7 linked regions of the Homo sapiens genome follow. The protein of the gene in region 3 purifies or fractionates together with the protein of the main gene of each other region. This does not show direct contact. Each region holds a gene or a part of one and is shown on either strand. Other genes may lie near its edges. The genes, in order: SERPINB5, DHX16, AP3M1, PHF6, LCP1, FERMT2 and CCDC9.

Region 1 (3,500 bases), on a different chromosome or scaffold from region 3:
GCTGGGCTGTGCTAAGCTTTACCATTGAACACAACGTTTCTGAAAAAAAAAAAAAAAGAGCCAAGCATACAGTGGAGCTCAAAGGGACTTAGAGATAATTTTAAAAAGACTTAGAGATAATTTTAAAGAACATTTTCCTTTTTAAAAATTATGCAATACTCCAAGCATTCAGAAAATGATAGAGAATAATAAAACGAACACCCATATACCGATCAATCATCTTTTTGAACTTAATATTTTGCCTTAATTATTTCAGATATTTTAAAGAAAAAATATAACAACAGTTGCATTGCTTTGTATGTATCCCTTCACTGCTCACTCCACTGTCCTGTTCCTCTTTCTTCCTCCCCAGTGGTAACCATTATTCTGAATTTACAATTTCTTCATTCTACTGACAAGAATACTGAGGCCTGGAGAGATTGAGTGATTTGCTCAAGGCCACAGAATCTGTTTATGTCACATTTGGGACTAAAAACCAAGGTTCTTATCTTCAATTTAGACTTTGTTAATTAGCTCAGATCTGAGTAGGTGGCAGTACAGTGGGGAGTGGGCAATTCAAACCAAAGACAAACAGAGAGGTCACAACAAATATTGTTTTGTTCTGCTATGTGCTAAGTTTGTTGTTGTTATTGTTCTGTTTTGTTTTGAGATGGAGTCTCGCTCTGTTGCCCAGGCTGGAGTGAGTGCAGTGGTATGATCTTGGCTCACACCAACTTCTGGCTCCCAGGCTCAAGCAATTCTCCTCCCTCAGTTTCCCAAGAAGCTGAGATTACAGGCGTGTGCCACCATGCCTGGCTGACTTTTGTATTTTTTAGTAGAGACAAGGTTTCACCATGTTGGCCAGGCTGGTCTTGAACTCCTGACCTCAAGTGGTCTCCCAAGGTGCAGGATTACAGGCATGAGGCACCGTGCCCAGCCAGTTTTTGAAATTAGGCATTTTATTAGGAAAAGCCGTATAAATGGTTATGTGGGTTTGCAGTAGAATTTACTTTCAAGTCAGCTCCACCAGGAATAGTTTAAAGATCTCATAGGCATCTGTAAAGAATAACAAACGTTGCCTATATTTACAGCCATACAGTCTTATTTTTAAGGTTTGATCTATGCAAATACAGTATTATATATACTTCATGTAATGTGTAACATGTAGATTATAAAGTATATGAATAACTTTTCAAAGGAACACAAACTCTTCACAGGACAGTCTCTGGTTTCAGTGCAATACAGTTTGGATCTGAGTGGATGATGAATTATAAGCCATAATAATCTGACACTGTGTCAAGAGCAAATTTGTGTATATATATATATGTACATATATATTTATGTGTTTGCCTATATATGTGTATATATGTGCATGTGTGTATATATGTATGGGGTATATATATATAGTATGTATATATAAGTGTGTATATATAGGTGTGTGTATATGTATATGTATGTATATGTATGTATGCATATATATGTATATGTGTATATATAGGTGTATGTATATATGTATGTGTATCTGTATATATATAGGTGTAGGTATATATGTATGTGTGTCTGTATATATACATGTGGGTATATATGTGTGTGTGTGTGCGCGCGTGTGTGTATATATATATATATATATATTTATGCATGTGTAAATTGAAAAGTAAGCAGTCCAAATTTTCCCTTTTACAGACAGACACCAAACCAGTGCAGATGATGAACATGGAGGCCACGTTCTGTATGGGAAACATTGACAGTATCAATTGTAAGATCATAGAGCTTCCTTTTCAAAATAAGCATCTCAGCATGTTCATCCTACTACCCAAGGATGTGGAGGATGAGTCCACAGGCTTGGAGAAGGTAAGGAGAAGGCAGGTGCTCTCCACAAAGGCACCCCCTGCCTTGGCAAAGAGTTGTGCCAACAGGTCTGTGTGGGCCGTGAGAGCTGGGCCGGTAGCCCTCCCTTATTGCCACTGGCTCAGTCACCTCCAAGGACCCATGGTTCTTTCTGGGGCCTTTCCTCCTTAATATTAACAACAGCCAAAATTTATTTGGCACTTACAGTGTTCTAGGGACTGTGCTAAGTTGCCTACGTGCATTATCTCATTTAATTCTTACAGCAGGCTGATGAGTTAGAGACTGTTACCACACTCTTGTTTACCAGTGAGGGAGCTGAGGCACAGAGGGGTGGGTAACTGGTTACATAATTAGTCAAGGGTGTGTGCAGGATCAGGATTTGGGCCCAGGTAGTTGGAGCCAGGTTCTTAACTGAAGGCTAGAGTGTCTCCCTCACCTCCTAGGCAGTTAAGGCACTACGTTGCTACGCACTGCCAGGTCCACTATCATGTGACCTGATGTCAAGCATCCTCTCTCTTGCTCTTTCTTTTTTTTTAAAATTAGTAGATGTTATTTTTAGAGTAGATCTATGCCTACAGAAAAATAAGCAGAAAGTACAAGGAGTTCCCATATACTCCCCTTCCCGTCCCAGGCCTACAGTTTCACCTGTTATTAGCATCTTGCATTAGTTTGGTATGTTTGTTACAATTGATGAGCCAATACTGACATATTACTATTATTATTATTATTATTATTATTATTGTTTTAGAGACAGGGTCTTGCTCCATTGCCCAGGCTGGAGTGCAGTGGCATGATGGTAGCTCACTCTAACCTCAAACTCCTGGGCAGGCTGGAGTGCAGTGGCATGATGGTAGCTCACTCTAACCTCAAACTCCTGGGCTCAAGTGATCCTCCTGCCTCAGCCTCCCAAGTAGCTGGGACTAAAGGCACACAGCACTATGCCTGGCTTTTTTTTTTTTTGTAAAGGTGGGATCTCACTGTGTTGTCCAGGCTGGTCTTGAAATCCTGGCCTCAAGCAATCCTCAGCCTCAGCCTCCTGAAGTGCTAGGATTATAGGCATGAGCCACCACACCTGGCCTTCACAATTTACGTTACGGTTCACTCTTTGTGTTGTACATTTATGAGATTTTAATACGTACACATATATGCTTCAAAATTTTGAATTATGCAGATACTATTTTATAGTACACATTATATATAAGTATTTTATTTTATATGATAAGGGTTATTATATTATTTTATTTATATAGATTTTTAAGGCACAAAGTTTAAATAAGAGTAGCAGTTTTCTCTGCAGGTGAATGGAGTTTTAGCTTCCTCTCTGCTCCCTCACCTCTGCTTAGCTGGCTGAGGCCTGTTCTCCCTTTAGTCCCTCCCTGGCTTCCATTCTAGCTCCACCCCGCCTGGCCTCAACCCTTGGCCAGGAAGGAAGAAGGGGCTCTTTGAAGGCCTGGATCACTTGCTATATATCCACATGGGCCTCAGTGATTTGCTGACTTTCCAGGGGACCATCCAGTCTCCAGCTTGCTCCTTTGGTTGCCATTATGTTTTAGCCACCACTTTATTAACTGAATTATAATTCCTGTCCTTCTTCTTCTTTGGTGCATTACTCTCTCTGTTTTTTTTCTTTCCATTTTATGCTTTGATCTTTCAGCCATTATCCAGCTGTCTTG
Region 2 (3,380 bases), on a different chromosome or scaffold from region 3:
AAGCCTCCCTCTATTCCCCAGGACCTATGATGCCTACTCCACTTTCTACCTGAATTCCAGTGGCCTCATTTGTCGCCATCGTCTAGATAAAGTGAGTCCTAGGTAGGGCTGGGTGGGGTAAAGGGTAGAACATTTGTGTGCCTCCCCCAACTGGCATTAACCTTTCTCCCTGCAGCTGATGCCTTCACACTCACCTCCAACGCCTGTGAAGAAGCTGCTAGTGGGAGCCCTGGTGGCCCTGGGGCTGTCAGAGCCAGAACCTGACTTAAACCTGTGTTCCAAGCCCTGATCCTTGACCTTGGAGTGGAGGCAGCACTGAAGACTGCTACGCCCAAGAGAAGGAGGTGGAGGCAGCCAAGAATCTCAGGAGCCAGCTTCCTCTCCTCGTTTCTCTCCTTCCTTCCTTTCCATCTCATGCTGTGTAAAGCTGCTGTGTAATTTAACTTGTAAATAATAAAGTTTAACTGACTATATGAGATAGAATTTCACATATCACTTTCTCTAGATCCCAAATGTTCCCACAAGCTTTATTCCAAAAATAATTTTATTTAATAGGTATTAAATAATGTATAGAAGGAAAAGGAGCTGGTGTCAGGTTCTGTTTACGTCCTTCTCTTACCCTAGCTCTTCTCGTGTTTTGCCTATTTTTTTGGGCATTTTCTTAGCATGGGGATCTTCTAGCTCCTTGGCCTTATAATAATGGGGAGCCACCTCCAGAAGCCAACTGCTCTCAATCTCCAGTACCTAGGAGAGAGAAAAGATCAATGGAGTTCCCTTCTTTCCAACATAGATCTTTTGTTGTTGTTATTTTTTTTTCTTAAATTGAAACAGAGTCTTGCTCTATTGCCCAGGCTGGACTGCAGTGGCGTATCATGGCTCAAAGCAGTCCTACTGCCTCAGCCTCCCAAGTAGCTGAGACTACAGGCACACATCACAGTGCACCATTAATTTTTTGTATAGTTGGGGTCTCACTATGTTGCCTGGGCTGATCTTGGCCTCCCAAAGTGCTGGGATGGTTTACAAAAATGAGCCACTATGCCCAGCCCCAACCTAGATCCTTATGTGTATGGTCAAAAGTTATCTTTCCTCTTTGACTGCAGGGCTAGGTGTAAAGGTGCCTGGCTCTATTATTATATACCCAAAGGGCAGATACACCTCTGTATGTTATTCAAGATACCAAATAAGCTATTCCCAAGAAAAGTCTAGAACAACATGCCAGGCACAGTGGCTCACACCTGTAATCCCAACACTTTGGGAGGCCGTGGCAGGCGGATCATGAGGTCAGGAGTTCGAGATCAGCCTGGCCAACATGGTGAAACCCAGTCTCTACTAAAAATATAAAATTAGCTGGGCGTGGTGGTGGGCACCTGTAATCCCAGCTACACTGGAGGCTGAGGCAGGGGAATCACTTGAAACCGAAGGCGGAGGTTGCATGAGCTGAGATGGTGCCACTGCACTCCAGCCTGGGCTACAACAGCACGGAACTCTCAAAAAAAAGAAAAGCCTAGAACATAAAGACTATACTCTGTGAGACCAGAGACTGCTTTGTTCATTATAGCCCCAGCACCTATACAGTAGCCATTCAAATATTTATTGAATAAGTGTCTAGTTCTCAGATCTTGGAAGATGCTGACACACCTGTTAGAAAGGATGTCTTTGGGCTGGGCATGGTGGCTCACACCTGTAATCCCTGCACTTTGGGAGGCCGAGGCAGGCATTTGAGACCAGCCTGGCCAACATGGTGAAACCTCATCTCTACTAAAAATAACAAAAATTAGCCAGGCCTGGAGGCTTGCGCCTGTAATCTCAGCTACTTGGGAGGCTGAGGCATGAGAATCTCTTGAACCCCAGAGGCAGAGGTTGCAGTGAGGCTAGATTGCGCCACTGCACTCCAGCCTGGACAACAGAGTGAGACTCCGTCTCAAAAAAAACAAAAAAAAACAAAGGATGTCTTTCTATTTTACCCTACCTTCCTCTTTCTGTACCAGTCCCAGCAACTTGAACCTGGGTTCTTAGCTTGCCAGGACACCATCTCTCTACATAGTCTCCACCTGCGTGGGCACAGGATGTTCTCCTCACCTGTCTCATGAACTCTTTGGTGGTCAAGACAAGTTCGTGGTAGAGCAGCCAGCGTGGCTGTTGCTCAAAGAGGGAGGAGTTGGGATGAATGAAGACTGTCTGCTGCTGTTTCACTGTGCGGTAGCCACTCCGAGTCAACCGTGCCGTGTGGTAAAAGTAACCAGCAGTGATGGCCTAAGGAGCGGGCAGGAAAGAAAATCAATGGAAAAGGCAGACATCTGGGGACCCTAAGAATGCACTACCTTTTTAGTTCAGGCTTCAGGAAAACTAGAGAGGTAAGGAATGCATGAAGAACTTCCCAGGAATGAACCTTCAGTGGTCTGGGGAAGAAAGGGCCCTGGGAGGACACGTCATACACAAGGGGAAGAGGGCATGCTCTCACGCTGGAGGAAATGCTGCATGCCCCCAGAGAAGCTTGCTCCTGGGAAGGTACTGGGGGTGGAAAGCAGGAGGCTGAAGAAATGCTGACCTTGCGTACACGGATATAGTCCCCCTGGCAGGAACTGAGACCAACTTCCACACGTTCCAAGAGCCCTTCCAGCTGTTCCCGCACATCCCGGGCTCGGCGCATCGATCTGAACTGTACAAAGTTCTCATAGCACCACTGGGAAGAGTAACCACTCTCAGCCCACTGGGAAGACAGTTAAAAAGAAAGGAGAGATAATTAAGTATACAGCAGGACTAAAGTCCCCCAGTGTCTCTCATTCCCACTCACCCAAGCCCAGTGACCTGTGTGTAAACATTTAGCAGAACCAGGTGGTCACCGCCAGGGAGAAAGAAGTTGACACGGGCATTGTCAGCATGGACGACCTTGTCCTTTGGTCGGTAGAAGATGGAGTTGTTGACAGAGAGCATGGCAGCCACTGTCAGGATCTCCTCTGAACAGCTGTACCTGGGACAGGAAGGGGAAAGCATGAGTTCAAAGCAAGACACATAGGAACAGATATGGTGGAGTGGGGAGTGATCACTGTGTGATGGATGTTTCCTCATGTGGGGAAGGCTGGTTGGCATAATGGCTACAAAGCAGCCAGCAGATAGATTCTGGCAGCAGCTTGGGGGTCAAGGAAGTAGGGGCCATAGATGAAACACAGTCACAAAGGAGGGACATCCATGGAGGCAGGAGCAGGAAACACCGGGGAATTCTGAGGCTTCTGCAGAAAGTGTGCATTCACTATGTGCATTTGGAAAAGATCTCTGACAGCAGAGGAATGGCATTTAAAGGTCATCCCTCCACAGCTACATCTAAATGTTCTAGTTGGAAACCTTAGGAACAAGTAAGTTCCTCAAGGGGCCGGGCGCAG
Region 3 (3,500 bases):
ATATCAAGAAAATATTGAGGAATAATATTAGGACTATAGAGGGGTTTTTTTTGTTTGCTTGTTTTGTTTTGTTTTGTTTTGTTTTGTTTGAGACGGAGTCTCACTCTGTTCCCTAGGCTGGAGTGCAGTAGCATGATCTTGGCTCACCGCAACCTCCGCCTCCCGGGTTCAAGCAATCCTCCCGCCTCAGCCTCCCAAGTAGCTGGGACCACAGGTGTGCACCATCACACTCAGCTAATTTTTGTATTTTTAGTAGAGACAGGGTTTCACCATGTTGGCCAGGCTGGTCTTGAATTCCTGACCTCAAGTGATGCATCCGCCTCAGCCTCCCAAATTGCTGGGATTACAGGCATGGGCCACCATGCCCGGACTATAGAGGGTTTTTTCCCCCGCTCTGTTTTATATATGTTCAGCAGCTTAAGCAATGAATTATGCTACTCTAAGTTTATTCTTCAGAACAAAAAGTATTTAGCAGGCCTTTCTTTTTGCCTTCCATTGTGTGATATTTTGTGTGTATTTTGTCAGGACTACTTTGGTGAGTGTTCAGAGGCTGCAATTAAGGATAATGTGGTCATAGTATATGAACTCTTAGAAGAAATGTTAGACAATGGATTTCCACTGGCTACCGAATCTAACATTTTGAAAGAATTGATTAAACCACCAACAATTCTACGCTCTGTTGTCAACTCTATTACAGGTAAGATGAAAACATACTGTGCTAGTAACTGAGCAATTAAAACTTTGTAAACAACTCATTATTGCTCATGATCTGACATATTATTAAGGTAGTACAATTTGGCCATAATTAAAGTTACTGGTAAAGTTAAAATGGATGTACTATATATTTATTTTCATGGAAAGAGGCTAGACCTTAAGTGATAAAGAACTTTTGGTTATTACTCTTTTTTTTTTTCTAAAACACCACAACAATATTATTACCATTATTTAACACTAAATACTAAGACTGAATAAATTGTTCCAGTTATTCCTAAAGAAGCCAGTATATGAGCCCACTTAGAAGAGAATTTAGTCCATTTATAGACTGGCATTTTAATATTTAAAATAGCATTACATAACTGGTATGCTGCTACTCCACAATTACTAGAGAATAGAAAATTTAAGACGCTTAACCACACAGTACTACAATCTCCTCCAAGTCTTTGTTTTTATGCATTCAGAAGATGTATTAAGAAAAAATAGGAAATAGTTTACTTATGAGATCTCATGCATTGTGGGCCTGTACTTGTGTTGTAAGCTTCCAGCTGGGTTTAATTCTTGAGTGTAGCTAGAAATTAGGCACATCCAGATACCAATATTCTTTCGAAAGCATTAAAGTCTTTTAGACAAAGATTCCTATGAAATGTTATATGCCACTCCAACTCCACTGTCAACCATTGTAAACCCCTGTCCAGTGCCTTGACCTAAAAATGAGGTGAGAGAGGCCTATAAGAAAAAGATCATTCAGCAGCTCTTTATTCATCCTTTGTGTAAGGACGAATGTTAGGAGAAATTCAAAGAAAGATAAGATGGTGTGTCTGTACTCCTAAAACTTATACTCTGAATGGGACATTGGAAAAAAAATTAAGTAAATAACTGTATAAGACTTTAAAAAGCAATTCCATACTTCACAGATAAAGTAATAGCATTGGAAAATAAATACACATGATGTAACGTTAAATTGAAAAGTCAGCACAAAACTGAAAAAAATTATTCTTATATATAAATATTCACTCCGACAAAAAAGTATTTACAATGATTATACCCAGCTAAATACAGATTATATTTATTTTTGCTTTATACTTTCTAATTTTCCAAAATAAACATGTATTTTATAGTCAGAGAAAAGTTACTAAAATATATAATGCAAAACATAACAGATTCATTAGATAGTGTATTACAAAGTTCAAGAGAATGGTTCCATTAATGAAGTAATCCCTCCTGAACTGTGGTGGGTGGCCACCTTGGAAAATCAGTAGAATTCAGGAAGTGAGGAAGGAATAAGAGCATTCTCCATGGTGGAACTGTATGAGAAAAAAACACACATGAAAGAGAAAAACCTAAAGTTTTATTAATCCCTTTAGCAGAAGCAGAACTGTTTTTCACTTGAGAAGTTAGAGATCAAATTAAAAAGTAGAGAAAGTCCTTCAAAGCTAGGATAAATATTTAGCTTTTATCATAAAGCCAGTGAGCAAACATTGAACGTTTTTGAGCAGGAAGATAACATGATTATAGGTTGCAGGTAGGAACACCAATCATAAGTAGACTGCAAAATTGTAGATACAGTATGATTGCGACTATATTTTAAAGTGCAATTAAAAACCAAAATTATCAAAATAGAAAAAAATGCAACCTTCTGGTGGTGGAAATATTCAAAGAAATATACCAAAATGTTAATATTATATTAAAATGTTAATACCATAATATTAACAAAAATGTTAATGGTAGATATATTTTGTTAGTAAGAAGACAGGTGTTTTTCTTTAAACCACTTCTCTGAACTCTACCTTTTTGTTGTTGTTAAGTATGTAGTACTTTCGAATGGGAAATATAAATTAACCAAAATATTAAGTAAGTCACAGCTCAAAGATATGTGTTTTGGACAACCAGACTTATTTTTAGGCATGTGTCAGTTTACCAGGAAATGAGCTGGATACTGAATACTAGCTATATTGCAGCCGTATGGGTATGCTGACCTTAAAATAGGAAAAGGCCAGATTCCATTTACTCCACTGAGGCGTGCTTGGCAGCATCTCATGTAAAATAAAGTTGAATACTGAAGGGCCTAGTTATAACTCTGTATTCTCACTGGAGACATTTTATTGGCAGAAGGTTTTGAAACAACCAACCTCTTTTTTCATCAGTGGCAGAGATTCTGTTGTTGAGCCACTGGAATTAGATTAGATTACTGTTAACACACAGGAGGCAAAAGATAAGTAAATAAATTTAACCTGGTTTGGCAGGTAGACAGAGGGCCACATGGCCTATATTTCTTTTCTAGAAATTTGATCATGTTGGTATGGATATGTCTGACAATTCTAGTGACCATCCACAACTTCATTAAGAAAAATCCAAACATTGAAGAAGCAGCTTTTTTTTTCCTAGTAATAAATTTTCTCATGACTGTTTTATACATCAGCTTTGCCTTCTCCTTTTTTGGTTTCTAGGCAGTAGTAATGTTGGGGACACACTCCCCACCGGGCAGCTGTCCAACATACCATGGCGTCGGGCAGGGGTAAAGTACACAAACAATGAAGCCTATTTTGATGTTGTTGAAGAAATAGACGCAATTATAGATAAATCAGGTAATTGTGTGCATGTCATCTTATTTGGGGAAAAACAATTCATCTGACACAGATGAATAGAAAACTGAAGTCCTGGCCGGGCGCGGTGGCTCACGCCTGTAATCCCAGCCCTTTGGGAGGCCAAGGCAGGCGGAACATGAGGTCAGAGTTCGAGACCAGCCTGGCCAACATGGTGAAACTCTGTCTCTACTAAAGATA
Region 4 (3,500 bases), on a different chromosome or scaffold from region 3:
TCACCACTAACAGGTAAATACATACAGTTCCTGGGACGGGCATTCTAATAACCTAGTGACATAATGATAGTTATAAACTCCATATAGATTTTTAAAATTGCTTTTCAAATTCACAGTCCATTTTTTCCTGAAGCAAAACTGATGACATAGGTTTTAGGTATTTAATATTCAATAATATTTTATTTGTGATGGGAAAATTGAATTGCTATATTATGCAATTATTCTCAAATTTAATATTTCAAAACAGCTCATTTTATATAAAGCTAACATGGCAGAATGAATTATATATTAATAGCATTTATCATATTAAGTATTAGCAAAGTAAGTATTGAGCCACAGATGGCAAATGACCAAGACATTACCATAGATATTAATTCATCTTTGTTCTGGAGACTAGTGCAGTACAATTCTTTTTTTTTTTTTTTTAGTGCAGTACAATTCTTAAAAGACAGTCCCTGAAATACAATCCTATAACCTCCCATCATAAACCATGATCGTAAAGGAGAACATATGTTTCCCATTAGAACAATGGAATAATTGGAAGTTCTGTTTCTGACAAAGCACTCAAAATCAACTAAATTTGAGCTAGATCAATGTGATAAAAGCCAGAAATCAATAAATATAAAGCTTTAATACTTTAAATTATAAAATTATTCTTTCAAGGTCCACAATGAGTATAAACACACTATATATAAAAATGATACAAGCCCCCCGCCCATTGTTCTATAGACGTACACATCGAATCCCAAATTCAAATTAATTGTAGCACAAATCTGAAGTTATAATAATGCTGCCAGTTACAGTAAAAGAAAAGTTGTCTTGAAAAGTATGAATTTAGATCTCTATTAAGTGTCACAGTGCTAAAACATGGCCAAAATTATTCTACTTTATATAGTTTGCAGTGACTTCTCCCTACCACTAGATGGTACTGTCAGCTTCAGAAATCCAGGGAATAAAATGGGAGCTATCTACATAATCAGTATATATTAATCATCCTTCTTAATTATCTCAAATATCCTGTCTCAGTGTGCTCATACTTGTATTCATCAGATCATGAGTCTCAATTCTCAGCTTAACATACAGCATAACATAGTCTCAATCCTCAGCTTAACTTGGATTGTTTGAAATAGGGATGGATACCCCATTCTCCATGATGTACTTATTTCACATTGTGTGCCTGTATCAAAATATCTCATGTACCCCATAAATACACACCTACTCTGTACTCACAAAAATTAAAAATAGATTAAGAAAAAAACCATATAGGGCCACTACAGTCTTAAAGAGAATGAAATAAATGCACTGTTAAAATCTGAAATAATGGAAGGTGGAAAAGCGTACTCAATCTTTCACAAAGGATTTTCCAATTCAATTCTAGAATTCAGTGAGGAGAAAACAGAAGAAAAGCACTACTAAGGTTTTTTCCGTCATATTTTATCACCTCAAAAAAATTATTATTTATCCAGCATGTTTACCTTAAAGACTAGATTTTGCTAACGACTGTATTTTTAACCAACACTTTAAAGTATCTGGACTAATCTCGAGTCCAGAAGTGGAAACTATATTGTTTTGTATTATAAAAGCCAAGATCTAGAGATCAAAAAGGGCCACCAATTTTAACATGCGAATACCAATAATTAGGTAAATCTTCATAAAAGAAACAGCTTCCTAAAACAACAGTGCTCAAACCATTATAATTCTAAGCAACATATTCTCAAAAGCGAACAAAAATTTTAAAGATCTCTAATCTAAATGAAGGGATAGAACAATCGCAGATTACATCTAAGCCATTTTATATTGCTAGTAAAAGTATCAAAACCATCTGTTTGAAAAGGTTTGAAACAAGTCAGAACTCAGTATCAGAGTTTTCGCATACTTTTTACAGACCAAGTTCAACTTGGCTAACTATATATAAACATGACTAACCTGGTTTTATATAAATTTAAGTAGAAACAAACTATTAAATAATTTTTAAAGTTTGTATTTTAAATTTGGTTACTTATTAACACATTGGCATTTTTTAAAGTACTACAGATGTGAATAAAAATATAACAGAAAGCCTGGTGATCACAAAATGTACTACTATTACCAAGCTCACATCATTTATAATATGACAGTATCAAGGATCCCATTTATCATCCTTAAAGAAACACGCAGCTGGCCGAGCACAGTGGCTCACGCCTGTAATCCCAGCACTTTGGGAGGCCGAGGTGAGTGGATCACCTGAGGTCAGGAGTTCCAGACCAGCCTGGCCAACATGGTGAAATCCCGTCTCTACTAAACATACAAAAATTAGCCAAGCGTAGTGGCGGGTGCTTGTAATCCCAGCTACTCAGGAGGCCGAGGCAGGAGAATCGCTTGAACCCAGGAGGCAGAGGTTGCAGTGAGCCGAGATTGTGCCACTGCACTCTGGGCAACAGAGCGAGATTCCGTCTCAAAAAAAAAAAAGAAAAAGAAAACAGAAAAGAAACGAGGCCGGGCGCAGTGGCTCACGCCTGTAATCCCAGCACTTTGGGAGGCCAAGGCAGGCGGATCACGAGGTCAAGAGATCAAGACCATCCTGGCTAACACGGTGAAACCCCATCTCTACTAAAAATACAAAAAATTAGCCAGGCGTGGTGGCGGGCACCTGTAGTCCCAGCTACTCGGGAGGCTGAGGCAGAGAATGATGTGAACCCGGGAGGCGGAGCTTGCAGTGAGCCAAGATCACGCCACTGCACTCCAGCCTGGGCAACACAGCGAGACTCTGTCTCACAAAAAAAAAAAAACACAAAGAAATGAAACACGCAGCCACCAGCATAATTTCTTACTAAAGATAGATTTTCAGCATATACTTTACAAGGACTTTGGGGTAAAAGTTTTCTTAAAAGTTCAGATCTTGGTCGGGCACGATGGCTCACGCCTGTAATCCCAGCACTTTGGGAGGCTGAGGCAGGTGGATCACGAGGTCAAGAGTTCAAGACCAGCCTGGCCAACACAGTGAAACCCCATCTCTATTAAAAATACAAAAATTAGCTGGGCATTGCAGTGCACGTCTGTAATCCCAGCTACTCAGGAGGCTGAGGCAGGAAAATTGCTCGAACCTGAAAGGTAGAGGTTGCAGTAAGCTGTGATCACACCACTGTACTCCAGCCTGGGCGACAGAGCAAGACTTCGTTTCAGGAAAAAAAAAAAAAAAGAAGTTCAGATCTTTTTCACTATGCACATTAGTTTATCCTAACACTTTTCTCAATTCTTCTAAATGTACTGAATGTTGAGATATGTCTTATGGTTAAAATTAATATAGTATAATTCACTAATCTGTACTCAAATTTCTTCTTGAAACTGAAAAGTGGCTGAAACGTGGCTAAATGATGTACCTTCGGAGTTATGTGCAGTTTTCTTGTGTTTTCGGCAATAGACCCTATAAAAAATGAAGAAATCAAAAATTAGTAAGCAAACTAAATTAAACTCACTTTTCAAATTAAGAAAACGAGCAGTACACTTCACCCAATTCACTA
Region 5 (2,378 bases), on a different chromosome or scaffold from region 3:
CTCCCATGTCATGTAAAACTTTGATGAAAGAAATATGTTACCCTTTTCTCTTGTTACCCATCTTTTGTCATAGTATTGGCCGTGACTCTTATGATAGGTGAGGAAAGGTATCACACCTCTTCACTCCTACAAGTTCAGTGTATTTCTGAGTTTGGCTCTCAGCTTTAATTTTATTCCCTGCTTTGCCTAACGGAAATTTATTCTTCAGTTTTTAGCTAAACTATTTCTCCTCAGACTGTTTCCTGTCATAAACTCATGTCTCACCCTGCCCTTCTTTTTATCACTCGTCACATCTGTTATTTTAATTGTTTAACTTCCGTCTTTCCTAAGACAGGCATCAGCTGAGCACAGTGCCTGTTTAGTTCATAGGCACATTCCTAAAACCTTGCACTGTGCCTTGCACATACTAGGCACTCGAACGTGTTGGAGGAATGAATGAATGAACGATTTATAGCACACTGTCAGCAAACTTTCAAAATGAAACATCCAGAGACACCTAATATAGGGAACATTTTATTTGGAAAGATTTTGAGCATCATTCTCTTTTCATTTTTTATTAAGGCAGTAACATTCTTTCTTCCTGGAGGCGGAGGGGGGAAATCATCTGAGGCTACAGTAAGTTCAATCTGAAGTCAAAACCAACCAATTTGTATTCAGAAGCAGCAAAAATACTGGTTATGGGCTGGGAGGAGCCACATGTTGGCTTTCTGAGTCCACTGCCAAGGAACAGATCCAGAGCAATGCATTTCAATTGCTTTGAAAAATGGCTAAGTTCCATTACATACCACCACTAAAGAAGATACCTCATTGATGGAGCTTTTCACCATGATAGAGGGCGTCTTGCATTGGTTCACAATGGCCTGTTGCTTTTTAGCCTTCAGTTGGTTTAGGGGGAAATTGCTCAACCTATGAGACCTGCTCAAATTCATACTGTTCTGGTTTTGCTTTGGAATTCTTTGTCCAGTAAATTAGCTCTTCATAACGCAGTTCCACCATTTCTTATCCAGCATAGATTCATTCTGCCCTTGACAGCTGGCTAGGTGTGTGTGTATGTGAGTAGGGGTGCTATTGATTGGCACATATTGTCCCCCCTGGAGTTTAGGGGTGGCAGAAAGCTTTTATAGTACCAAAAAAGTAAACATTGATAATATGGCCTGACAACAATCAGATATGCTAAGCTCTAGAAGCAAAAGCAAGGTAGGATTGCCTCCAAATGTTGACAGGTATTAGCCATACCACAGTAACTAGATCTAATGTGAGGGCTAAATGCCTGGAGAGGCAGAACCCTAAAGGATGCTTAGTTATAGCTCCATGCTGCCGCCGAGTGGCTTGATGCTCCATTACACCCTCCTTGGATCCAACCTTCCATTAAGGCTGAAGGCTCTAGAGGGCAGAGTATTCAAGATGTTAGATCTGGTCCAAGCCCAAATTCTAGAGTTAAAAGCAGAGGGGTTCTTAGTGGCTGAAAAAAAACAAAACCTGATGACATTTGGGACTCCAGTTTTGAGGAAAGGCTCTGATGATGAGGCTTACTTCTGCAGGCTACCAGAGACTCCTGAGACTTCAACAGCTTGACTGATTTATCACACACTCCAAGTGGCCCAGAGACAAGGACGGCCAGAAGAGATGGGCCCCCCCGGAAGGCATGGTTCCAAAAGTGTGAGGAGCAAAGTCAAGGGAGGCAGGGTAGGAAGAGGGGACAGAAAGAGGGGCTTGCAACAGATCAAATGCTGACCTCCAGGAACAGGGTTTAGGGCAGGTGTGATGTTTCCCCTCCTGGCCCTCATCTTGAACAAAGAAAAGGGAAGCCACATGAAGCTGGTTTGAAAGATTATATCAAAATTAATACCACTGCAGCTTCTATCCTTGGCTAATGGCAAAAGCGAGAAGGGTACCTGGAAAATAACTTCTTTCTTTTCCTCTAGATTTTCGAAGAAGCAAATAAATCAAGAATAGAAACCTATATATAGGAGGTTGGGCCTCCTGCAAAGAATGAAGCACTTTTTGTTAAATACAGGAGAGGCTACTTGGCTGCACTAATATGTGCTTTTTGGAATCTTATAGAGTGTCACCAAGTTGAACTTTGGAATGGCTTGAATCATCCCTGGAGCATCTGTGCCGGGCAGTCAGGAGTGAGTGCACCGCCTCCCACCCAGCCCCATTGGGCCTCACACCCTCTTCATTCCTTTCCCCATGAGGCAGGCAAACACGGTCATGACCATTTTGGGGTTCACTTCAACCAGGTCTTCTGGCAGGGCATACACTCTTGCTCCAATTTTTCGGGCCATAGAGATGGCATATCTAAAAGGGAGAAAAGAGGAAAAATAAGGAGAGCCTGAGAAACACAACACGAATGGGACCCTGGAGGGTCACAGTCA
Region 6 (3,500 bases), on a different chromosome or scaffold from region 3:
TGGTTTAATCTAAGGACAATGTTAGCTATCTACTTAAGGATTATCATTGTAGAAAAAGGTTTGGTTCCACTAGTCTCTCTAAATCTTATCACCTAAAAGCATCGCTTTGCTACAGCCCATTTTATAGTGTGTTGTATCATCCCTGGCTATTTATGAAATTATACAGGTAAGCTTCAGATTAGATTTCAGAAATCTGATTTTTAATAAATATTTTCTTTCCAAGGAAAAACTGAGGAGCTTTGAGCAGATTTATATTTGGGGGTGAGAGGATAATTTTTTTCCTACAAAATAGGATAATTTTTTTCCTACAAAATAGAGAAAAGTACTTAAGTATACCACTGAACTCTTGGAAAAGATAAAAAATCAAACTAAAATGTATTTGTTTTGCTTTCCTAAGTGTCTACTCACTTTCTTCATGGCAAAAATTCTGTCTCGTGAAATGTTACTGGAATTACTATTCCACTTTACTGTTTAAAAATACCTCCCTACCCTTTACCGGAATAAGTCCCATTTACTAGACCTTTCAACTACCTGCAGGGCTGCAAACATCATCATTTCTTCTTCTGTGCATTCAATCTCTTCCAGGAGAATGGCCCATTTGGCCTGCTCGTAAAGCTGATTGATTCTGATTGCATCATACTGCAACAAGAGAAATAGTTCTTTTGTAATATATAACCTTTACCATTGAAAAATTTCAAACTCTGAATATTCAATTGACAAGAAAAATTTAATGCTTTTTTTCCTGGGATCTTAATTTACAAGCAAGAATTTTTATTTACAATCAAGTATTATTAGAAGGATACCTATGGGGTCAGACATGCCTATATATGCCCACATCTAATTTTCCATTAAAAATGACATTAAAATATGACAGAGAATAATTGATTGTACAGTATTAAAAAGTAGATTCTGTATGTTATTTTTCAGGGAAATAACCACTAGACATTATAGCCTTTAACATAAGAAATCTAATTTGATGACATTAAAGTAAGGCGGAACTACCGATTATTTTTCAGTGTTATTACTGCAACTTGCCATACAAACATGTAATCAGAAAGCAAATTATTCTGGGGAACATTTTGTTCACTGTGGAGAAGCATACCCAGATAAAGTGGCAAGTCCTTGGAAACGGCAGTTATTTTAAGTATGCAAAATACAGGGCAAATATACTTGTGGAAAATGTTTACTTATATGTTATTCAATTATCCATTTAATTATATAAATAAAAGTCAATAGTAATGCCTTAAGAATACTGCAGATTGAGTATCCCTTATCCAGAATGCTTGAGACCTTCTGTGTTGAATTTAGAATTTTTATAGATGATGGAATATTCCATTATACCAGTTGAGTGTCCCTAACATAAAAATCCAAAATGAGCATATCCTTTCAGCATCATGTCAGCCCTCAAAAGTCTTAGCTTTTGGAGCATTCTACATTTTCAAATTAGGAATGCTCAACATGTATTTTAGAACGTTGACAAAATACATCTCCATTCCCCTCACAAATGTAACTATTCCCAAAGTAGCTTTGGCTTTACTAAAAGTAGGTATGATGTGGCCTGAAAATGAATTAAAATTATTTTCTATAATTTTATTATAGAGATTTTACTGTTGTATAAAGAATTACTTAAGCATATAATAAAAGAATGTAAACATAACATTAAAATCTAGACTATACTCTAAACATGAAAAGGATGAGAGGGTAGCCAAGAGAGGTTTCTTTCCCCAGGCTGAAAGAGAAGTAAAAGATTCAAACCTCTGTGCCAAGTGTTTTCTACGGGGGAAAAAAGCTCCAGATATTTATGGTAAAGTTAAATCTTACCAGAAAAGTGAAGTACTATGGTAGCAGAGATAATACCAATCATAGTAAAGACAAGTAACAGTGTTTGTCTGTTACAGAGGAAAAAAATGTAGACCTAAGAAAAATTTGGCTGAGCATGGTGGCTCAGGCCGGTAATCCCAGCACTTTGGGAGGCTGAGGCAGGAGGATGGCTTCAGCCCAGGAGTTTTGAGACCAGCTTGGGTGAAATAGTGAGACTCTGTCTCTACAGAAAATAAGAAAGCCAGGTGTGGCTGGGTGAGCCTGTAGTCCCAGCTACTTGGGAGGCGACGTGGGAGAATGGCTTGAGTCCAGGACTTTGAGGTTACAGTGAGCCATGATCATACCACTGCATTCCAGCCTGGAGGACAGAGTGAGACCCTGTCTCAAGAAAAAAACGTTTTTTTGAAGCAACATCTTTTGGCACGTAATTAGTAATCTAAAAGTAATTGAAAAGGTAACCTTTTTGAAACTTTTATTTAAATATAGTTGAAGAGAGGTCTTATATTTTAAAAATGAACTTTGCCAATTCTTTTTTTTGTTTGTTTGAGATGGAGTCTTGCCCTGTTGCCCAGGCCGGAATGCAGTGGCATGATCTCGGCTCACTGCAAGCTCCGTCTTCCAGGTTCAAGTGATTCTCCTGCCTCAGCCTTCCAAGTAGCTGGCATTACCAGCGTGTGCCACCATGCGTGGCTAGTTTTTGTATTTTTAGTAGAGACGGGGTTTCACCATGTTGGCCAGGCTGGTCTTGAATTCCTGACCATGTGATCCGCCCACCTTGGGTTCTCAAAGTGCTGAGATTACAGGCGTTGAGCCACTGCACCCGGCCTAAACTTTGCCAGTTCTATAGTACCAAAAGAGTACCTTTAAAATACAAATCATGACACTCTAAGAGCTTAGAGATTAAAAAAAAGATAAAACCAAATCAGCCAAAAGTTTCATTATCTTAATAACAACAATAAAAAGGTTTAGTTATGCTTCCAACCTACTAAAATAGACTTATTTAAAATACAAATACCTTTGCCTAAAAGTTTGGGTTTTTAATAATTATTCAAGATTTCCTATATACAAATAATTCCTTATTCCACCGACTTCCAAAAACAAACATCCATGTGAACAAAACAAATTAATGGGGAAAAAAAAAAGATCCCTTTAAACCCTCGGTACCTTTGGATTCAAATCAAAAAAGCTGTAATACTTGAATCGGAGCAGCAAGGCCTCATTTTCCTTCACATCTTGTTCCATGAGAGATCTTGAGGAATCAAGCCATCTGGACAAATTAAGAACAGTGGAACAAAACAACACAGAATGAAGACAATATTTCTACCTCTAGCTGGATGAAGAAATTCAATTTTATCTATATCTTAAAACTTACCCTTGGTTGATTTTTGCTTTATCAAGAAGAGCTTGAGGCTTGAACATTTTTGCCAAGATTTCTGGTGACGTGATTGGTTGACTGACAGCAAGTATACCAGGATTGCCTTCTGACAAAGCACTGTCACCAAACCAAGCAGAAGTTGGTGACAAGGGGCTTCCATCATGAGCATCATAAGTGGGGGTCATTGTTTTACTATACAGTCCTGGGCTTGAATATATACTTCCTAATAAGTAACATGAAAAACAGGTAGTAAGTATGCAGTACAGCATCTTATTTTTCAATAATAACACATATTATGATATAA
Region 7 (2,964 bases), on a different chromosome or scaffold from region 3:
ATCTCAGCTACTCGGGAGGCTGAATCAGAATTATTTGAACCCAGGAGGCGATGTTGCAGTGAGCTGAAATCACACCACTGCACTCTAGCCTGGGCAACACAGCAAGACTCAGTCTCAAAAAAACAAAAAAAAAAAGATAATATTATTACACAGATTATCTAAGTCTAAAATTCTAACCTCCACCCTGGCTGCTTACTCTGCATCATTATCCTTCTGGGCCTAACATTAGACCTCTTAATTACCCACCTTGCCCACTACACTCTTAGTTCCAAAAAGGCAGAAATGTTTTGTTTGCTGCTGTATCACCTAGAACCTTCCATGACATAGAGGAGGACTCAAATATATGCTGATGAAAGCAAGACACCATGCATTTTTTTTTCTTAGAGATAGGGTCTTGCTCTGTGGTCCAGGCTGGAGTGCAGTGGCATCATAACAGCTCACTGCAAACCTCCTGGGTTCAAGCAGTCCTCCAGCCTTGGCCTCCTAAAGTGCTGGGATTGTGGGGATTACAAGCATGAGCCACCACGCCTGGCCCAGACACACATTATTATTATTATTATTATTATTTTTTGAAACGGAGTCTCTCTCTGTCGCCCAGGCTGGAATGCAGTGGTGAGATCTCGGCTCACTGCAAGCTCCACCTCCCAGGTTCACACCATTCTCCTGCCTCAGCCTCCCGAGTAGCTGGGACTACAGGGCGCCCACCACCACACCCGGCTAATTTTTTGTATTTTTAGTAGAGACGGGGTTTCACCGTGTTAGCCAGGATGGTTTTGATCTCCTGACCTCGTGATCCACCTGCCTCAGCCTCCCAAAGTGCTGGGATTACAGACGTGAGCCACTGCACCCGGCCCACACAAACATTATTCATCAGACTTGTTGCAAACTGCTTTTAGGACACATAAGAAAAACAAATACTTTCTCATTGTGAATGCTGAGAACATCTCCCCAAAAGCCCAGCTGCCTCCTCCTTAGGAAGATCAGCTATAGTATCTGTGCAAATTATTTCTCACACTCGCACAGGCTTGGTTCACAATCCACAACAAAATGCTTCCCGACCACTGGGCAAACAGACAAAATCCTCCTTAGCCAAAGCCAAAAAACAAGTTATAGGTGAATGAAAACTTTCAACACAGGAAAGAATGGGGGATGAGGTAAAACCTAAAGTTGCTGATCTTTAAATACTGCTATTTATCGGCTCTTCCAGAACCTTCTCCTTCTTGGTTATGGAAGTTGGTCCCCATGACGATGATGCAATGAGGGCTTTGCTTTAAGTCTGACTGAATCGGGGGACAAAGTCAAACTTGAGGTTAACAATGCCACTGGGTTAAGAAGGTGGTGGTGCCGGGCGCGGTGGCTCACACCTGTAATCTCAGCACTTTGGGAGGCTGAGGTGGGTGAATCATGAGGTCAGGAGTTCAAGACCAGCCAGGCCAACATGGTGAAACCCCACCTCTACTAAAATTACAAAAAATTAGCTGGATGTGGTGGCACGTGCCTGTAATCCCAGCTACTCAGGAGGCTGAGGCAGGAAAATCGCTTGAACCCAGGAGGCGGAGGTTGCAGTGAGCCGAGATCACATCACTGCACTCCAGCCCCGGCAACAGTGCGAGACTCCGTCTCAAAAAAAAAGTAAAAAAAAAAAGGTGACGGTGAGGCATGGAGACATTCAGGGATCTGAGTTGCTGGGGACAGGTCAGAGGCTGGCAGGAGGATGCAAAGGTCTAATCGCTGTTAAACAGCCTTCATGCCCTCCCTGCGTTGGAACTGATGTCCCTGCCGCCACCGGTGTTCCTATCCACTGGAGGGGGCAGAGCTTATTTCCCCGCCCCAGTGAGGCGGGGTGTGCTGGCGAACACAACTGGGAAGTGTGCCTGCTTGTGCATCTGCCCATGTCAGGGCAAGCGCTCCCCAGGCAGCTGCTGCCCTCAGCCTGGACAGCAGAATGAACACCCTGGCGCAGAGTGAATTCACCCTGCTGCAAGAAGCCAAGCCCAGCGGGACCCACAGCTTAGCGTCCAGCCTGGATCAGCTCAGCCCAGCATACCCATGAACACAGAAGAAATCCTCTCACCCCAGCTGCTCAGGAGGCGGAGGCAGGAGAATTGCTTGAACACGGGAGGCGGAGGTTGCAGTGAGCTGAGATCCTCCCACTGCACTCCATCCAGCCTGGGCGACAGAGCTAGACTCTGTCTCCAAAAACAAAAAGAAAACCAGAAATGCTCGGCCGCGCGCGGTGGCTCACGCCTGTAATCTCAGCACTTTGGGAGGCCAAGGCAGGCAGATCACAAGGACAGGAGATTGAGACCATCCTGGCTAACACGGTGAAACCCTGTCTCTACTAAAAATACAAAAAATTAGTTGGACGTGGTGGCGGACGCCTGTAGTCCCAGCTATTCGGGAGGCTGAGGCAGGAGAGTGGTGTGAACCTGGGAGGCGGAGCTTGCGGTGAGCCGAGATCACGCCACTGCACTCCAGCCTGGGCGACAGAGCGAGACTCCGTCTCAAAAAAAAAAAAGAAAACCAGAAATGCTCTCACGTGCCGCTGAGCTCCAGCAGCTGGTCCATGGCATCTCAGGATACTTGGCAGTCACTCACTCATACACAGCAGGAAAAACCAGAGAGAGGCATAGGACTTAGAAGTCAGGGCCAAGGTCAACGTGCCACATGGGGAGAGGAGCGGGGAGGAGACTCACATCCCATCGGTCTTCTCGGCATCCCACTCGCGCCTCCACTGGCCAGTGGGCTTGCGGTGCCTCTGCAGCCGCTCCTGGTCGATCTTCTCCCTCTCCTGCTTCCAGCGCAGGTACTCCGACCGCTCCCGGCCCGTCATGGACAACGTCATGTCTCCAGCACTGCCCAGGCCAGCTCGGCGGCCCTGCCCCCCAGCCCACAGGGAGTCAGGGTGATGTCCCGCACCCTACCCCGCCCCTAAGCCCCGAGGCACATCCACTTGCTCAGGAT

What was found.
Region 1: the proteins of AP3M1 (region 3) and SERPINB5 purify together in Homo sapiens (co-immunoprecipitation; one large-scale study listed by IntAct). This does not show direct contact.
Region 2: the proteins of AP3M1 (region 3) and DHX16 purify together in Homo sapiens (affinity purification with mass spectrometry; one large-scale study listed by BioGRID and IntAct). This does not show direct contact.
Region 4: the proteins of AP3M1 (region 3) and PHF6 purify together in Homo sapiens (affinity purification with mass spectrometry; one large-scale study listed by BioGRID and IntAct). This does not show direct contact.
Region 5: the proteins of AP3M1 (region 3) and LCP1 purify together in Homo sapiens (co-immunoprecipitation; one large-scale study listed by IntAct). This does not show direct contact.
Region 6: the proteins of AP3M1 (region 3) and FERMT2 purify together in Homo sapiens (affinity purification with mass spectrometry; 2 studies listed by BioGRID and IntAct, with this or other methods). This does not show direct contact.
Region 7: the proteins of AP3M1 (region 3) and CCDC9 purify together in Homo sapiens (affinity purification with mass spectrometry; one large-scale study listed by BioGRID and IntAct). This does not show direct contact.

The regions. Positions count from the first base shown.
Region 1 is NC_000018.10:63,497,458-63,500,957, forward strand, and holds part of SERPINB5 (serpin B5), read left to right. Parts: exon of another isoform or gene 1-46; intron 47-1,662; coding exon 1,663-1,830; intron 1,831-3,500. UniProt on the Homo sapiens protein: Tumor suppressor. It blocks the growth, invasion, and metastatic properties of mammary tumors.
Region 2 is NC_000006.12:30,652,627-30,656,006, forward strand, and holds the end of DHX16 (pre-mRNA-splicing factor ATP-dependent RNA helicase DHX16), read right to left. Parts: intron 2,972-3,380; coding exon 2,809-2,971; intron 2,711-2,808; coding exon 2,549-2,710; intron 2,254-2,548; coding exon 2,080-2,253; intron 745-2,079; coding exon 616-744; 3' UTR 501-615; downstream 1-500. Other genes in the region: uncharacterized protein C6orf136, read left to right, coding at 22-91, 176-289. UniProt on the Homo sapiens protein: Required for pre-mRNA splicing as a component of the spliceosome. Contributes to pre-mRNA splicing after spliceosome formation and prior to the first transesterification reaction.
Region 3 is NC_000010.11:74,133,829-74,137,328, reverse strand, and holds part of AP3M1 (AP-3 complex subunit mu-1), read left to right. Parts: intron 1-525; coding exon 526-697; intron 698-3,164; coding exon 3,165-3,302; intron 3,303-3,500. UniProt on the Homo sapiens protein: Part of the AP-3 complex, an adaptor-related complex which is not clathrin-associated. The complex is associated with the Golgi region as well as more peripheral structures.
Region 4 is NC_000023.11:134,393,812-134,397,311, reverse strand, and holds part of PHF6 (PHD finger protein 6), read right to left. Parts: intron 3,404-3,500; coding exon 3,360-3,403; intron 1-3,359.
Region 5 is NC_000013.11:46,125,423-46,127,800, forward strand, and holds the end of LCP1 (plastin-2), read right to left. Parts: intron 2,302-2,378; coding exon 2,169-2,301; 3' UTR 501-2,168; downstream 1-500.
Region 6 is NC_000014.9:52,878,051-52,881,550, forward strand, and holds part of FERMT2 (fermitin family homolog 2), read right to left. Parts: intron 3,420-3,500; coding exon 3,194-3,419; intron 3,089-3,193; coding exon 2,986-3,088; intron 640-2,985; coding exon 532-639; intron 1-531. UniProt on the Homo sapiens protein: Scaffolding protein that enhances integrin activation mediated by TLN1 and/or TLN2, but activates integrins only weakly by itself. Binds to membranes enriched in phosphoinositides.
Region 7 is NC_000019.10:47,266,525-47,269,488, reverse strand, and holds part of CCDC9 (coiled-coil domain-containing protein 9), read right to left. Parts: intron 2,879-2,964; coding exon 2,697-2,878; intron 1-2,696. UniProt on the Homo sapiens protein: Probable component of the exon junction complex (EJC), a multiprotein complex that associates immediately upstream of the exon-exon junction on mRNAs and serves as a positional landmark for the intron exon structure of genes and directs post-transcriptional processes in the cytoplasm such as mRNA export, nonsense-mediated mRNA decay (NMD) or translation.